2 separate regions of the Homo sapiens genome follow, and region 2 is linked to region 1. Evidence: fine-mapped expression QTL. Tissue or cell type: testis. Region 1 holds a variant in brackets; the other region holds the start of a gene. All regions are shown on one strand. Distances are between the middles of the regions.

Region 1 (8,106 bases):
TAGGAGTTTGAGATCAACCTGGGCAACATGGCGAAAACTAATCTCTACCAAAAAAAAAAAAAAAAAAGTTAGCTGGGCATGATGGCACGCACCTGTAATCCCATCTACCTGGGAGGCTGAGGTGGGAGGATCATCTGAGCCCAGGAGGTCAAGGCTGGCAAAGAGGGCAAGGAAAGAGCTCCAGGGAGAGGGAGGAGCGTGGGCCTGTGGGAGGGCTGGCTGAAGACCAGGCTGGAGGTAGAGTGGGCCTGCATTTGAAGGACACCTATGCCAAGTAAGACAAGCACTGGAATAATCCTAACCTCAGGATGATAACAACTTCACAAAGCCTTTCAGACACCTGTGGATATTTCCCCTTCAGAATGCTCCTGAGCCTCATTCATTCATTCAACAAGTGTCGAGGAAGCATGTTTCATGTGCATGTGCTGGTGAGGAGCTGGGACTACTCAGTGAAGTCAGATGCCATCTGTACAATGGAGGAAACAACAGCCTGGCCCTGAGGAGAAGCATCATGGATGCAGGCTTGCTTCTGCCCATCATCTCTTTACGGCATAGCCCTGCTTGCAGTCAGTGTGGTTTCATTGGCACTAATGTCACCTCTGCTAGCTCCAAGGAGGAGGGTGTGACCAGCCCTGGCTAATCAGAGTATCACAATCCTTTTGACCATTGTGATTGGTTCAGAAATTGACACATGACCTGAGTTCAGCCATTTAAATCCTTCCCCAGGACTTTTGGTGGAGCTAATGAGGAAGGCACCCGCCATCTGAAACAGCAAATAAGAACAGGGTGAGCCTGGAGATGTCAGGAGCTGCCTTTGCCGCCTCATGGAAAAAGCTTGCCTGAAATTAGAGCCAACACAGAGGAAAGGAGATCTAAAAGGTGGGTAGACAGATGCTTGAGTTCCTGGGTCTAGCTGTAACTCCTCCTAGATGGTTGGGTGTCTGACTTTGTAGTTACAGGAACCAACAAGGTCACTTTTTTGTTTAAGTTAATGGAAGTTGAGGCTTTCTCGACTTACAAGCAAGAATTCTGATTAATACAGCAGACACCTGGGCCACCAACTTCACAATGATCTGATAAATGCCATTATAATAGAGGAAAGACAAGGGGGCGGGACAGTGTAATGTGGGAGGGGCTGGTGCAGCTCATGCTGCTGGCCTGGCTCATCTGTGTCAGCTCCACCCTGGACGTCCCCTGTGGCATCAGAAGACAGTTTTCATGAATATTGTCGGCTTTCTAGCTCAAGGTCCTGTGTAGGTGTGTGCTCAACCCAGCCACAGGACAGGTTGGAAGTGCTGAGTGGTTAGGACTCAGGGACAAATCTTTAACCCATGAAGGATTGCATTTAGAGTTTCAGCACCCCAGCTCCCCTACTTCCGGGTGGAATAGTTCAGAGGTGTTCTTTTCTTAACCCTTCAGAAGGTCCCTGGCAGGTTGGGCTGAATTGTCCATAGATGGACCCTTTTGCTGGCTTTCCTCCTTTCTCTGTCTCACTCCCCTATTCCTCACCTGGGTATCCTGGGATCACCTCCCAAATAGAGCATTTGCACCCAAACCCTAATCTCAAGGGTCTACTTTTGGAGAACACAAACTCAGACAGAAGTCCTCTGCAGGCCAACCATATAGGTTTGGATCCCAATGATGATGCTTCCTGTTTGACTTTGGACAATGTATTTAATTGTATGCCTCAGTTTCCTCATCTATAAAAAGAAGATGGTAATTTCACCAATCTTAGAAAATTGTTGTGAGGTTGAAATGAGGTACCATATACAAAGAGCTCACAACAATGTAAGTGCTGCATAAATACCGGTTATTGTTCTTATTATTCTTCTTATTCTTGTTATTGAGTGTTGTCTAAGCACGACCCCAGGGTCTGGGAAATCTTGGAAGAGGTGACACTTCAGCTGAATCCTGAAGGATCAGCAGGAGCTGGGATGAAAAGGAAGGAGAGGGCCACATCGAGCAGAGGGAATGAAAGGCTCCACTTTGGAAGTCGCTTCTCTGTCTAAGCTAATAATTCTAGGAGATTATACCCTTTCTAAAGCATCTGAAAATACCTTCTTTGGTTACAAGATAATTTTTGATATCACTTTTTGTTTTGTATCCACTGCAGAAGAATTAGAGTAGGAGTGGCAAAAAGGACTTTGAGTCCTGTAAGAGTTAAATCACCCAAATGAGATGTGTGTGTGTGCACGTGTGTGTGTGTGTGTGTGTGTGTGTGTGTGTGTGTGTGTGTGTGTGACATTTTCTCCCAAGACAGGAAAAGGGCCTGCAGAATGTAGTCCCAAGAAGGGATATGCCATGCTCCATTTGAGTTCCTGGGTTTGACAGCAGGACTTCACAGGGGCATGTGTCTGGTGCACTTAGAGACTAAAGCCCAGACACCAGGGTCCCAGTTTGACAAAGAGCCCTGTCCCTGAGATTGGCATGAGAGCCATGGGCTTGGGAAAAAGTGTAACATCAGAGACTGGTGTTGGCTGAAGACCAGAGAGCCCTTTCCTGTATGTTTTGCTCCATATGCTGACTCTTGTTCTTGGTGGGTTGTTTTCTTATATGGTTTGTAATCTCACTTTAGTCAGGCTTTATCTACATGGTCTGGGTTGAAGATGTGGCCCTCCAGGGTGGTTCTGCTTTTGATTCTGCCTAATGTCTCAGGGGTATTACAGGCTTAGAACCAAGTTTTATGTTCTTTTCTTTTACCATATCGTGCAAGCAATGTAAATTTCAAGTCCTAAAATGGAAGCGGGCGTGTGGTTAGGAACGATCATGGAATACATTTTCCCCATGCAAAGTAGGACAAAAACAGACAAGTTTCCTTGTTGTCTCAGTTTGCTGATGAATGGATTTTACCCTAGCTAACTGTTTTGTTAAGTATATAGCTCTGCGGAGTGACAGTTTCATAAGGGGGTTTCAATTCTCATTCTTCATCTTATGTGGGACCAAGGCTTTCTCTCTGATTCACAAAAAACATTAAAATTCAAGTACTGTATTAATTGGGATATATTATTAGCAGCTTCAACAGAGACCCCAAATAGCAGTAGCTTAGATGGGAAAGTTTAGCTCTTTTTCATATGAAAGTCCATGCTGGCACTGTGAAGTAGTCAGAGGTTCAGGTTCCTTCCATATCATCACCTTATCATCCCTAGGGTGCTGACGTGGCCCGAAAGGGGTCTCAGCTATGCCTATGTTCATGGGTCAAGCTGAAAGTCATCGAAGGATTGAGAACAAGGATATGGGAGAAATAACAAGACAAGTCTCTGTAGAGACTGC[A/G]ATGCCTCTGCTCCAGTGGAGTTGAGATCAGATTTGGATAATCAAAGACATGTGACACGAATTCAGCACCCATAGTAGATGGTAATTAAGCCCACAGCACTTCGAGTAGTGAGGAAACCATCAGGCTATGGGTGGTGTAGACAAGCTAAGTAGGTGTAAAGTAGTAAACATATTTGTGTATATATATGTGTGTATATATATATATACACATATATATGGTATATATGTGTGTGGTATGTCACTGTGGTGTGTGTGTGTATGGTGTGCGTGTGTATGTATGTGTGGTGTATGTGTCTATGAGTGTGAGATGCTGTACATGTCTTTGTGTCTCTGTCTCTAGTGCATGTGTTTGTACAGGTGTGTAGGGGTTATGTGTGTACCAGTGTGTATATTTATATGTGTTGTGTGCATGTGTGTCTATCCATGAGCTCTGTGAAGCTAGACCCTTTTTTCTGTCACCATTCATTGGAATAAACCATACCTTTAGGATTAAATTATTTGCTAGTCAATCATATTAAGTATAAATCTCATTCCACAAACACACGTGTGCATGAAATAAAATATCGTTTTTCTTCAGCAGAAGTTAATTTCCATCATAACTCCCATCTCTTCCTCCTTTTGAGATTGTCTGAGTTCCAGAGGACTCATGTAGCACCAGCATGTGAGACCTAGGACCAGGGCTGGGTGGGGGCAGCAGGAGGCAGGGAAACCTGTCCCAATTTCGAGGGCCAGAGGTCTGGAAGGAGATCTGGGCCCAGCTATGCTGTGTATCATACAGTGGTGGTCGAGCACCTCTCAGAGGCCCTGCTTGGGACTTGGGTTGTGGATTGTAGTCATTTGCTGTTTTGGTTGTTGATTCACTGGTGAGTGACCCCTTCTGTCCCTGCTCTTTGTGCTAGTTTAGTGCCACCCTTGGGCACATGTGAGCCAACTGCTGTCATGGAAAACTTGGTAAGTTCCGCAGCCCAGCTCTGCCATCTTGCCACTTCCACAGATCTCCCACTCACTCTGCTCTCTCAGACTGTGGCTTCCTGCCTGCCCCTCTCTGAGTCTCAGTCTGGAGCAGGCATGGTGTACCTCTCCACAACCCACCAGTGTCAACCACTGCTGCTTCTCTGCTGTCCTTTACCTAACTGGGAGAACTTTAGTCTGGGTGAGGCAGGGGGCAGGGGGGATGAGGTAAACTTTATGTCCTCCCATCAGATACTCTTGCAAATCTAATGCACATGCCCTGTGTTTTTCCTATTGCTCCCAAGGCTTAGGCTTTTGGAAATTAAAAGCCAAGAACTGACTCTTTAAATGTTTTCTCAACTTTCCGCTGTGCCTCCTTATCCCAGAGGCAAGGATACTGTGCCAAGTTGACTGATGCGGAAAGGACACATGGTGGAAAGACAGAGGAGAAAAACACATCAGAAAATACATCATGAAGCATATGACCATGCCAGGAGAACCTCATGCTGCTACTGAATAGGATAAAATAGCTTCCTGCAATCAGGACTGGGGACCCTGTTTCACACAACAGTGTCTGGCACATGTTTTTGCCCTAGAAGCCTGCATAACCCCTGAGACTTGTCATCAGTGTGACTAGCTGGGGCTGGTGTCATGGGCAATAAAGGAATTTACCAAGACAGTTGTAGGTATAGAAAGGCAGAATTATTAGAGAAGATATGAAAGTATGTTGCAAGGTTGCAATAGGCAGCACAGCAGAGAAGGGGCTACTTGCGAAGAGGCAGGGGCCGGAGGAGAGTTTACAGGGTCGTGCTGAAGGGGGCTACAAGTGGAAGAAGGTTGTGCTGCTGGGGCTACATGTGGAATAAGGTCATTGTGCCTTTGGGTTGTTTGTAATTAGCCATCTCTCAGAAAAATTATTCATGGTTCTCCCCACCTGGGGCCCCTTCCTCATTGTTGCTTACCTTTCAGGACCCTACATTCCACCCCAAGAGAAAACAATGACAAATCTTTGGCATTGGGGCAGAGAACTCGTCTTCCAACTACTTCCTGCTGGCCTGGGGTGTAGAATTGACCCTACCTATGGTTGTTGGTCTGATAGGAGACCCTGTAGGTCATTGTCCCGGATTGTGGTACTTAGGATATTGCATCTTGCTGGAGGAAGGGACTCATCACAAAGGGGGAACATGTCAAGGTGAAACTGGTGTCTTGCAGAATCCAGGGGAGATTCATAAAGGTAGCAGGCATCCCTGGGGTGAGACAGATATTCCATTCACAGCATCATTTGAAGGTGAAACTGCTCAATTCCAGTAGGGGAAATTTTGTTTCTTAAGCCAGTTACCAAAAAGGCAAAGAAAAACCTTTTGCAGTGTGACTGTTTGTCCTTATTGGAAGCCCATTTAGATAACCTGGAAGTTGAACTCAATGAAAAAGTGTTTAAATTTAATTAGACACAGCATAGGGAACCAATTTTAGAGAGACTACTATACCTTAATTACATACAATATTCCTTTTATAAATTTCCATTCATAGATTTTCTCATGACTTATGCAGACCATCTATGACACACTTGGACTTTCTGTCTTGTCCTAAACATCCCTCTTTTTAAAACAACCAGTCATTTTACTTTAGGCCAAGAATTTACCATACAAGATCCTTTCTTATATAAATCCTCTTTTCTACAACCTTCCTTACCAAAAAATACCTCTTTACTTTTATAACTTTTTTATGTCTCTCTTATTTCCTGATTCCTTTGATCTTGTTTAATATAAAACCTTTAAATAACCTTTGAATTAGACAAAAATTATTTTATTTTGTTAGGAAGTTAAGGTTTGTACTGCATATTGCTGTGTTAATACATATTGTCCATGAAGGGGGAGCAAATGAGGAGGTGATCTACATACTGTAGGTTATCCCCCCTCAAGAAATTGTTGGGTTAGATTCTTGCTAGGACTTGTCTGAATAAGTGTGAGCTATTTTTAAAACCCTGAGTTAGGTAGGACTATTTAGGTTGAAGTTATTGGTTAAAGATTTAGGTAGCTTTCCTGGGAGAAATAGGACTATTAGAGGGAAAGATGAATGCAGAGGTTGGGCAAATATTAAAGCAGGCACCCATCTTGGAAAGTATATTTCCGTCCCAAAGGGGTATGAAGTATTTAGACATTACTGGGGACTTGGGAGAATGGTAATTGGACCCTTCAGTAACATAAAGAAATGTGAATCTTTTCTTTTGGAGGGAGGGGGTGTCATTTGCTCCAATTACCCAACAGGATTTGGAGGAGAGTTGCTCAGAGAAGGAGATTAGTACAGAGTAGGCAGCTCTTGAACCCAAAAGGGAAATTTATCATTTTACTTTCCATCTCTAGGGTTGTCCTTGGCTTTGTCTTGTTGATGATAATGTTTGATTTGGAAGCCAGCTGGAGCAGAGAGCCCCTTTCTCTCAGGGCCATCAGAGGTTGGAATTCTGTCCCAGGGACACTTCAGCTCTCAGGGCAGTCTTGTTTCCAGTGGCCAAGCTTGTGACAGAGGGGGCAAGACACAGAGGGCTTTTTCCGTTTATTCCTTTGGGTCAGTTTGCTTTCCAGTGGCCTGGCCTTCTGCACTGGTGGCAGTTACCTGGAGGGATGTTCTTAGGGCAACCTGGAAGGGGCTGGGGGCTTGTAAAGCAGCCAGCAGCTGAGCCTGCCTCTTGTCCCTTTGTTTTTCTTTCTTCTTAGCCCTGTCCTCCCTATTCTGCTCTCAGTTATAAAAAACTGAGGAGGCTAATTTGAGGACTTCCTGCAATGGGGCCATGCTGTGTTACACAAGAAAACTAGATGCTCCTTTTTGAGAATCTGAGGATTAAATTTATCCTAATGTTTTAGAATGTAACCCAGAGGTGGCTCTGAATGAAAAGATGGGGTTTGTCCCATGGTGAGACTAGAAAACGACAAGCAACTGAGGATGATGTCTACTAGAGTGGGACACAAGTCGCACTTTCTCTTGGGGCAGGCATCCCACTGAAGAAAGGGGTTCCACTCAAGTCCACTGGGGGACTTCTCAGATGCATTCCTAGAGGGGTGTCCCACCTATTAGGAAGGATCTCCTGGCGTAGGGCCTTACGCTGTATGGCCAGTCCAGGCATGAGGAATGAGGGTGAAGGGAGAACTCAGCTGGAAAGCAACCTAGAAGAGGGGAGAGGAATGGGGAGACTCACTGCTCTGTGGCCACTTGAGATCACCTGATTTGGGAACACCTGGAGCAGGAAGTCTGGCTGTCTTCATGGGAGAATTTAGAGTGAGAAAGAGGTGGTCCGAGTTCCCCAGAACATGTGCAGGTTTGTCTTGGTTGAGCTTTCACCACCAATCATGCTATAAGTAAGGATTGGGGGCTTTTGACTAGAAAGGATAAGAGAGAGCCTTATTCCCTTCTGGGAAAGACAGCCAACCCTGTTTACCCCCTGGACTTCAGGCAACACCAGAGAGCAGCCCTGACCAGTTACTGTAAGTTGACAAAGGGATACTAGACGTTGGCTGCTGGAAGACTGAAAAGGAGAAACTGAACTAAGGTCCCTCATCTGATCAGGTGATGGTGGTAAGATGCTTCCACATGGACACCTTCTAGCTTCATCAGGGTATAGCCCTGCCAGAGACTGTCAGTTGTTTCTGTTTTTGTGTGCTGTCCACGAAGGGTCCCCAGTTGGAAGAGAGAAAGGGAAAGGGGAGAGAGGTCCCTGTAAGAGCCAAAGAAATATTGTAGGTGCGAATAGCTGGGGCTGGTGTCATGGGCCATAAAGGAATTTACCAAGACAGTTGTAGATAAAGAAAGGCAGATTTATTAGAGAAGCTATGAAAATACGTTGCAAGGTTGCAATGAGCAGCACAACAGAGAAGTGACTGTCTGCAAATA
Region 2 (8,106 bases), 200 kb after region 1:
AAATAAGACTATTAATGAAGCAGTTCACATCAGCCTTTTGATACTATGCTTTTATCAAGTTTGTGTAAATGAGATTATGCAAATAATAGTGATGGCTCTCACTTTGGAGCACTTATCTGAGGTCAGGAGTTCGAGACCAGCCTGGCCAGCATGGCAAAACCCCGTCTCTACTAAAAATACAAAAATTAGCTGGGTGTGGTGGTGCACACCTGTAATCCCAGCTACTCAGGAGGCTGGGGCAGCAGAATCGCTTGAACCTGGGAGGCAGAGTTTGCAGTGAGCGGAGATGATGCCACTGTACTGCAACCTGGGACAGAGTGAGACTCCATCTGCAAAAAAAAAAAAAAAAAAAAAAAAAAAAAAAAAAAAAAAAGAAGCAAAATCTGAATTTCACTCATCTTGAGTATGAACTGGCCCTAGTAACTTGTTTCTAACTAACAGAATGCAACAGAAGTGATGCTGTATGACTTCCAGGGCTTAGTTAGAATAGGTAATACAGCTTCTAACTGGCTTTCTCTCAGGAAGGTTCTCCGTGGAACCAAGGTTCTATGCTGTGTGAGAAAGCCCTGGCCACGTCAACCACCAAACATGTGAGTGAGGAAGCCTTCTAGATGATTCCACCCTAACCACCATCTGGCTAGAGCTGGATGAGAGACCTGAGGGAGAGCTGCCTAGCTGAGTCCAGTCAATCCCCAGAATTGTGAGAGAAGATGATATATGATTGTTGTTTCATCTCACTAAGTTTGGGATGGTTTGTTACACAGCGGTTGATAACTAGACCAGAGACCTTTCCTAGAAACGCTGGAGAACACGTGCCAGGATGGTCCTGGACATCTCCATTGTTTGCTGCTTGCTTCTCTACTGTGCCCATTGCCTGTGCTTTCACCAAACCCCCTATTAACCAGACATTGTCAGCTACCAGAAGTTTCCTGTCTTAGGATCTTGACACTTTTGAGACTCTTTGAAGTTACGAGACATGATGGACTTACTATCAAAAACTTGGCAAGCACAGTTACATCAGCAAGTGTTACTTTGTTCAAGTAAGAGGGGAAATAGTGCAGCATGGCAGTTAACCCTGTGCTCTCTAAGCTTTTACTGAATTTCAGTGGGTCATTCTAGAGACTTGGTAGCCACATGCGTGTCAGTTTGTTGATATTCAGTATTGATTATTCTCATAGGAGCTGTATATAATTGTTTTGAGCTTAAAACAAAGAAAATGATTAGTTTATGGTTCTAATCTTTTGGATTTTTTTTTTTTTTTTTAGACGGTGTTTCACTTTTGTCGCCCAGGCTGGAATGCAGTGGCGCGATCTCGGCTTACTGCAACCTCCACCTCCCGGGTTCAAGCGATTCTCCATCCTCAGCCTCCTGAGTAGCTGGGATTACAGGCGCCCGCCACCACACCAGGCTAATTTTTGTATTTTTAGAAGAGACAGGGTTTCACCACATTGGCCAGGCTGGTTTTGAACTCCTGACCTCAGGTGATCCACCCCCCTCGGCCTCCCAAAGTGCTGGGATTACAGGCGTGAGCCACCACGCCTGGCCTTGGATGTTTTAAAGTAAAATTTTCCCCACTGCAAAATAATAGATATGTGTTGTAGGAACTTTTGGAAACACAAGGCACAAAGGAAAAAATACCTTCATATTTCTCCTTTTCCCATCTCCCCAGAGACTTTTTTCTCCTTATTTGTTGGCATATGTCTTTCCATACTCTTCAATGCATATATATTCACAGGATAACATTATATGTGGTATTTTAGAACCACATTTCTAACATTCCATTTATCATGTTTTGTATTTGCATAGTATTCCATTTCGTAGTTGTACCATAATATCTTTAGACAATGCTTGTGGTCAAATAATTTCCCCCAATATTTTACTGTTACAAAAAATGTTTCGATGAACATTTTGGTCTAAAGTTGATGGATCAAGGAATATAGGGGTCATTATAAGTTAACAAATACAGCGTCAGATCATGGTACTACTCTGCTGAAAATCCCCCTTGGCTCCCATCTTACTCAGAGCCAAAGCTAAGGTCTTTACCATGACCTAAAATACCCTCAGCCATCCGGAGTGTGCATGTATGCATACACACAGACATGTACATGCCACTCACTCCTGCCTCTCTAGCTCATCTTCTCCTGCTCACCCCTGACTTGTTCCCCTGAAGCTATTCCTGGAATACACCAGGCAAGCAAGCCCCTGTGTCAGGGCCTTGGCACTTCTTCCTTCTGCCTATAACAATTCCTCCAAGTATCCACAGGCTTCCTCTTTCACTTCCTTTGTTGCGTTGGCTCAGATATCGCCTTATCTGAGTGCCCTTCCTTAACTATACAATACAAAATAAGTTCATGAATCTGCCCTCACCCCTACATTCCCTGTTTCCTTTACCTTGTTCTATTTTTCTATAACATTTACCTGACAAATCTTATGTTTGTTTATTGTCACTCTTCTTCCAGAATGTAAGCACTGTGAAGTCAAGGACTTTGTTAGTTTTGATCACTATTGTATCCATGGGTTCTAAAGCACTGCCTGGCACATAGTTGGCACTCAGTAAGCTAAGAAATAATAAGACTAACATATTGGGATTGTGGCAAGGAGGTAAGTATACTCCACTTTTTCAAGGGGATTATAAAGGGCATCATTTTTAGGTGGGAGATATTGGACATAGGAGTTTGTGAACCAAGAGACAGAGAAAGATGTTACTTGGAGATATGGAGGTTATAAGTATCAGAAGATTAGAAGTTCCGGGGATGTTTTAAAGTAAAATTTTTCCCATTGCAAAATAATAGATATCTGTTGTAGGAACGTTTAGAAATACAACTAAAGCACTTTTTGCTTTACTTGGAGTGGGTGGGACTGGAATTGGGAGGAGGGGCCATGGAGAGGCTGCTTTTTTTCATTGTGCATCTTTCTGTAAGACGTGAATTTATACCATGTACACCAATTACTTAAATAATAAGAGCATGTTTGGACTTCCAGTTTCTGGTGATGGCTGGTTATGAAAACTTGAAGAAACAAAATAATGGCTTTTTTTAAGTGAAGAACTAAAAAAACATTGAACTTCCAGGCCAGTTTTTGGATAAAAGTCTATAACCAGGGAGGGAAATGGAATACTGGAACAAAAAGCTGCCTGTGCTGAGACAGCAGTTGCTGATACCACAAACACTTGTCTGCTGTTTCTGTGGCCTGGCTGAGCCAAGAAAACATGTTAAAGCACAGAGCCCACGCAAGACAGTGTGCTTGCAGGAGACCCTACCAACAGGAATCGGATAACAAGGAGCTAAAGGTAAGGAGGAGTCAGAGCTGAACCCAGTGCCCTCTTCCCAGCAGTTGTAATGAACTGTGGCTACCTTGGTGCTCTTGGAGCAGGGAGGAAAAGAAATAGAAAATACAATTTCCCTGGAAGGCCTGTGCATATCTGCTTCCCTGAAGATTAGCTTCTCAAATATACATAGCTGGTTGGGCCAAGGATTCTCAAAATCTGAATTCGGCAGAAGCACAGCAAGATCTCTCTGGAAGAGGGCTCATCTCAAGCGTCAGGAGACTCCCGTTAAATACTTATTCAAGAATAATGTGTGGCAAGCGATAAAGATTACAAGTTACCCAAGCAACTTGAATATGAATGAGAATAGAAAATCACAGAAGCCCAGCTTCTTCCACTTAGCATAATCATTTGAGTCATCCATGTTGTCATGTGTATTCAGCAGCTTGGTCCTTTTAATTGCTGAGTGGCAATCCATAGTTTACTCATCCATTTACTAGTGGAAGATTTGTGTTGGTTCCAGTTTTTAGTGACAGTGGTTAAGCTGCTGTTAACATTCACCTAGAAGTTTTTTTGTTTTGTTTTGTTTTGTTTTTGAGACAGAGTCTCGCTCTGTCGCCAGGCTGGAGTGCAGTGGTCCGATCTTGGCTCACTGCAACCTCCGCCTCCCAGGTTCAAGTGATTCTCCTGCCTCAGCCTCCCTAGTAGCTGGGATTACAGGCACATGCCACCACGCCCAGCTAATTTTTGCATTTTTAGTAGAGACTGGGTTTCACCATGTTGGCCAGGATGGTCTTGATCTCTTGACCTCATGATCCGCCTGCCTCTGTCCCGCAAAGTGCTGGGATTACAGGCGTCAGCCACTGCGCCCGGCCTCACCTAGAAGTTTTTATGTGAATCAAAGATTTTGTTTCTCTTGAGTACATTCCTAGGAGTGGGATAGCTAGTTATATGATAAATATGTATATATACTTAGTAGGAAATTGCCAAACAGGTTTGCAAACTGGTGGTGCCACTTTGCATTCCCACCAAAAATGTATGAAAATTCCAGGTGATTGGCATCCTCACCAGAATTTGATATTGTCTGCAGTTTTGATGTTTTTGCTATTTTTTTGTTTTGACTTGGGTATACGGTGCATTTCATTGTGTTTTTCATTTTCATTCTCCCAATGCAAATGATGTTGTGTATTTTTTCATATTCTTCTTTGCTACAGGTATATTTTCTTTAGTGAAGTGTCTATTCAACCCTTTGGCACATTTTTGAAAAACTGGATTGTATGTTTTCTTACTGAATCTTGAGAATTCTTTGTATATTCTTGATACAAATCCTTTATCAAAAATATGGTTTTGGCCAGGTGTGGTGGCTCACGCTTGTAATCCCAGCACTTTGGGAGGCCAAGGTGGGCAAATTGCTTGAGCCCAGGAGTTCGAGACAAGCCTGGGCAGCATGGTGAAACCCCATCTCTACAAAAAAAAAAAAAAGTACAAAAAATACAAAAAATTAGCCAGGCATGGTGGTGGCACACGCCTTTTGTCCCAGCTACCTGGGCGGTTGTGGCTGTAGTGAGCCATGATTGTGCTGCTGCACTTCAGCCTGGGAGACAGAGTGACACCCTGTCTTTAAAAAAAAAAAAATTATATATATATATATATATATGTCAAATATATATATATATATGTCAAATATATATATATGTCAAATATATATATGTCAAATATATATGTCAAATATATACATATATATGTCATATATACATATATATGTATATATATACATATATATGTCATATATATAACATATATATGTCATATATATACATATATATGTCATATATATATACATATATATGTCATATACACATATATATGTCATATATATACATATATATGTCACATATATATACATATATATGACATATATACATATATGGCATATATACATATATATGGCATATATATACATATATATGGCATATATATACATATATGTCATATATACATATATATGTCATATATATACACATATATGTCATATATATACATATATATGTCATATATATACATATATATGTCATATATACATATATATGTCATATATACATATATATGTCATATATATACACATATATATATGTCATATATATATACGACATATATATATGTCATATATATATACATATATATATATGTCATATATATATACATATATATATGACTTGCAAGTATTTTCTATTTTCTCCCAGTCTGGCTTGTTCTTTTGTTTTCTTAGCAATGTCTTTTGAAGAGCAGACATTTAAAATTTTGATGGAAGTTCAATTTATTGGGTCTTTTTCTTTTTTGAATTGTGCTTTTGGTGTCAAATCTAAGAAATGTTTGGTAAACCCAAAGTTACAAAGATCTGTCTTCTAGAAAAGAGGTGAGCAAACTTTTTCTGTAAAGGGCCAAATAGAAAATATTTTAGGCTTTACAGGTCATAGTCACTGTTGTAGCATGTAAGCAGCCATAAAATACATAAATGAATAGGTGTTCAGTAAAACTGTTTTTACAAAAACAGATAAAGATTTGGCCCATGAGCCTTAGTTTGCTAACTCTTGTTGTAGAAGATTTAGGTATTGCAGTTAAGGTATGATCCATTTCTAGTTACTTTTTTTATGTGGTGCAAGCAATGGGTGGAGAGTTTTGTTTTTGTTTTTGTGTATGTATATACACTTATTCTAGCATTATTTGTTAAAAAGACTGTTCTTTATCCACTGTATTATCTTTACACCTTGTTTAAAATCAGTTATTCATGGGTGTGGATTTATTTCTGAATTTTCTTTTCTGCATCTGTGTCTGCCCCTTCTTTATGACTATACTGTCTTAATTACTGTGGCTTTGTAGTAAGTTTTGAAATTGGGTAGTGTGAGTCCTCCAGCTTTATTTTTTTTTTCCTCAAATGTTTTAGTTTTTATAGCTCCTTTGCCCCTCCATATAAATTTTGGAATCAGCCTATTAATTACTACCAGACTTCCTACTGGGATTTTGATTGGGATTGCATTGAACCTATAGATCAATTTTGACATCTTAACAATATTGAGTCCTGTTACCAGTGAATGTAATATATCTCACCATTTATTTCAGTTTTTTGTTTGTTTGTTTTTGTTTTTTTTGAGACAGAGTCTCTCTCTGTCACCCAGGCTGGAGTGCAGTGGTGCAATCTTGGCTCACTGCAACCTCCACTTCCTGGGTTCAAGTGATTCTCCTGCCTCAGCCTCCTGAGTAGCTGGGATTACAGGCACGTGCTACCACGCCCGGATAATTTTTGTATTTTTAGTCGAGATGGGGTTTCACCATGTTGGTTGGGCTGGTCTCAAACTCCTGACCTCGTGATCTGCCAGCCTCAGCTTCCCAAAGTGCTGGGATTACAGTCGTGAGCCACCACACCCAGCCTATTTCAGTATTTTAAAGTGTCTTTCATCAGCGTTTTATGGTTTTCAATATACAAATCTTTTACATAATTTGATAGGTTTATACTTGAGTATTCATGATTTTTAGTGCTATTGTAAATTGTAAATAATACTGTTTTAAAGTTTTTAATATTCAGTTCATTGCTGTTATATGAAACTGACTGATTTTTCTATATTTCCTTTTGTATCCTGTGATCTTCCTAAACTCACTTACTTGTTCTAGTAGCTTTTTTTTTTTTTTTTGTAGATTCTCTGGAATTTTCTGCATAGACAATTATGTTGTCCACAGATCGAAACCATTTATTCCTTTCTAATCTGTACGCCTTTTCTTTTCTTTTTTTCTCTTTTTATTGTTTGCTCCTCCTTCCCTTCATGTGTCACTTTCCACCTCTGTCCCTTCTCTCCCCTTCCCTCTCTCACTCCTCCCTTATTACATTGGCTAATATGAATAGATCTCACTACTAACAGCCGAGAGCCTTGCGTGTTCTTGAACTTAAAGGGAAAGCATTCAGTCTTTTGCTAAGAGGATTTATTATGACTGGATATTGAATTTTGGCAATTTTTTTCCCCATCAAATGAAATCATATGATTTTTCTAATCAGCTGATAGGATGACTTCCTTGATTAATTTTTGAATGTTGACCCAACTTTTTATGTATTTATGGATTCAATTTGCTAAAATGTGGTTGAAGACTTTTTATATGTATGTCTGTGAAGGACATGGTCTGTTGTTTTCTTGCAGTATCTTTGGTTTTGGTGTCAGGGTAATGGAGGGCTCATTAAGAAAGTTGAGAAGTGTTCTCTCCCCTTTCATTTTCTGAAAGAGTTTGTATAGAATGCTATAATTTCCTCTGCAATCTGTTGTACTGCTTTAGCTGCATCTCTCAAATTTTGATTTGTTGGTTGAAAAGAAGCCATGTAGGAATGTGGGGTCATCTGTATTGGGAGTGCAAATGATATGGTTTGGGTCTGTGTTCCCACCCAAATCTCACCTTGAATTGTAATAATCCCCACGTGTCGTGAGAGGGACCCAGTAGGAGGTAATTCATTCATGGGGGCGAGTCTTTCCCGTGCTATTCTTGTGATAGTGAAGAAGTCTCATGAGATCTGATGGTTTTATAAAGTGGAGTTCTGTACACGCTGTCTTGCCTGCCACCATGTAAGAGGTGACTTTGCTCCTTCTTGCCTTCTGCCATTGATTGTGAGGCCTCCCCAGCCATTTGGAACTGTGAGTCCATTAAGCCTCTTTCATTTGTAAATTACCCACGCTTGGGTATGTCTTTATTAGCAGTACGAGAACAGATTAATACAGTAACATACATCACAGTAGGTATGAGCCAACTACTTGTGCCTTGAGGTGGGCAGATTTCCTGAGTGAATGTAAACAGTTCTCGCA

Evidence for each region. PIP is the estimated chance that this variant, and not a neighbour inherited with it, causes the effect.
Region 2: it holds the start of LINC01176, and the variant in region 1 is fine-mapped to the expression of LINC01176 in testis (GTEx, PIP above 0.99).

The regions. Positions count from the first base shown.
Region 1 is chr7:30,190,856-30,198,961 of GRCh38, forward strand. It overlaps LOC124901607 (a long non-coding RNA gene), which reads left to right. Exons shown (of 3, transcript XR_007060274.1): 1 at 1-8,106. Among named protein-coding and RNA genes, the nearest start is that of MTURN, 60 kb to the left of the region's middle. The variant A/G (reference allele first, on the strand shown) is at 3,271.
Region 2 is chr7:30,387,747-30,395,852 of GRCh38, forward strand. It overlaps LINC01176 (long intergenic non-protein coding RNA 1176), which reads left to right and starts at 3,139. Exons shown (of 3, transcript NR_108081.1): 1 at 3,139-3,289. RefSeq lists an enhancer at 3,321-3,939.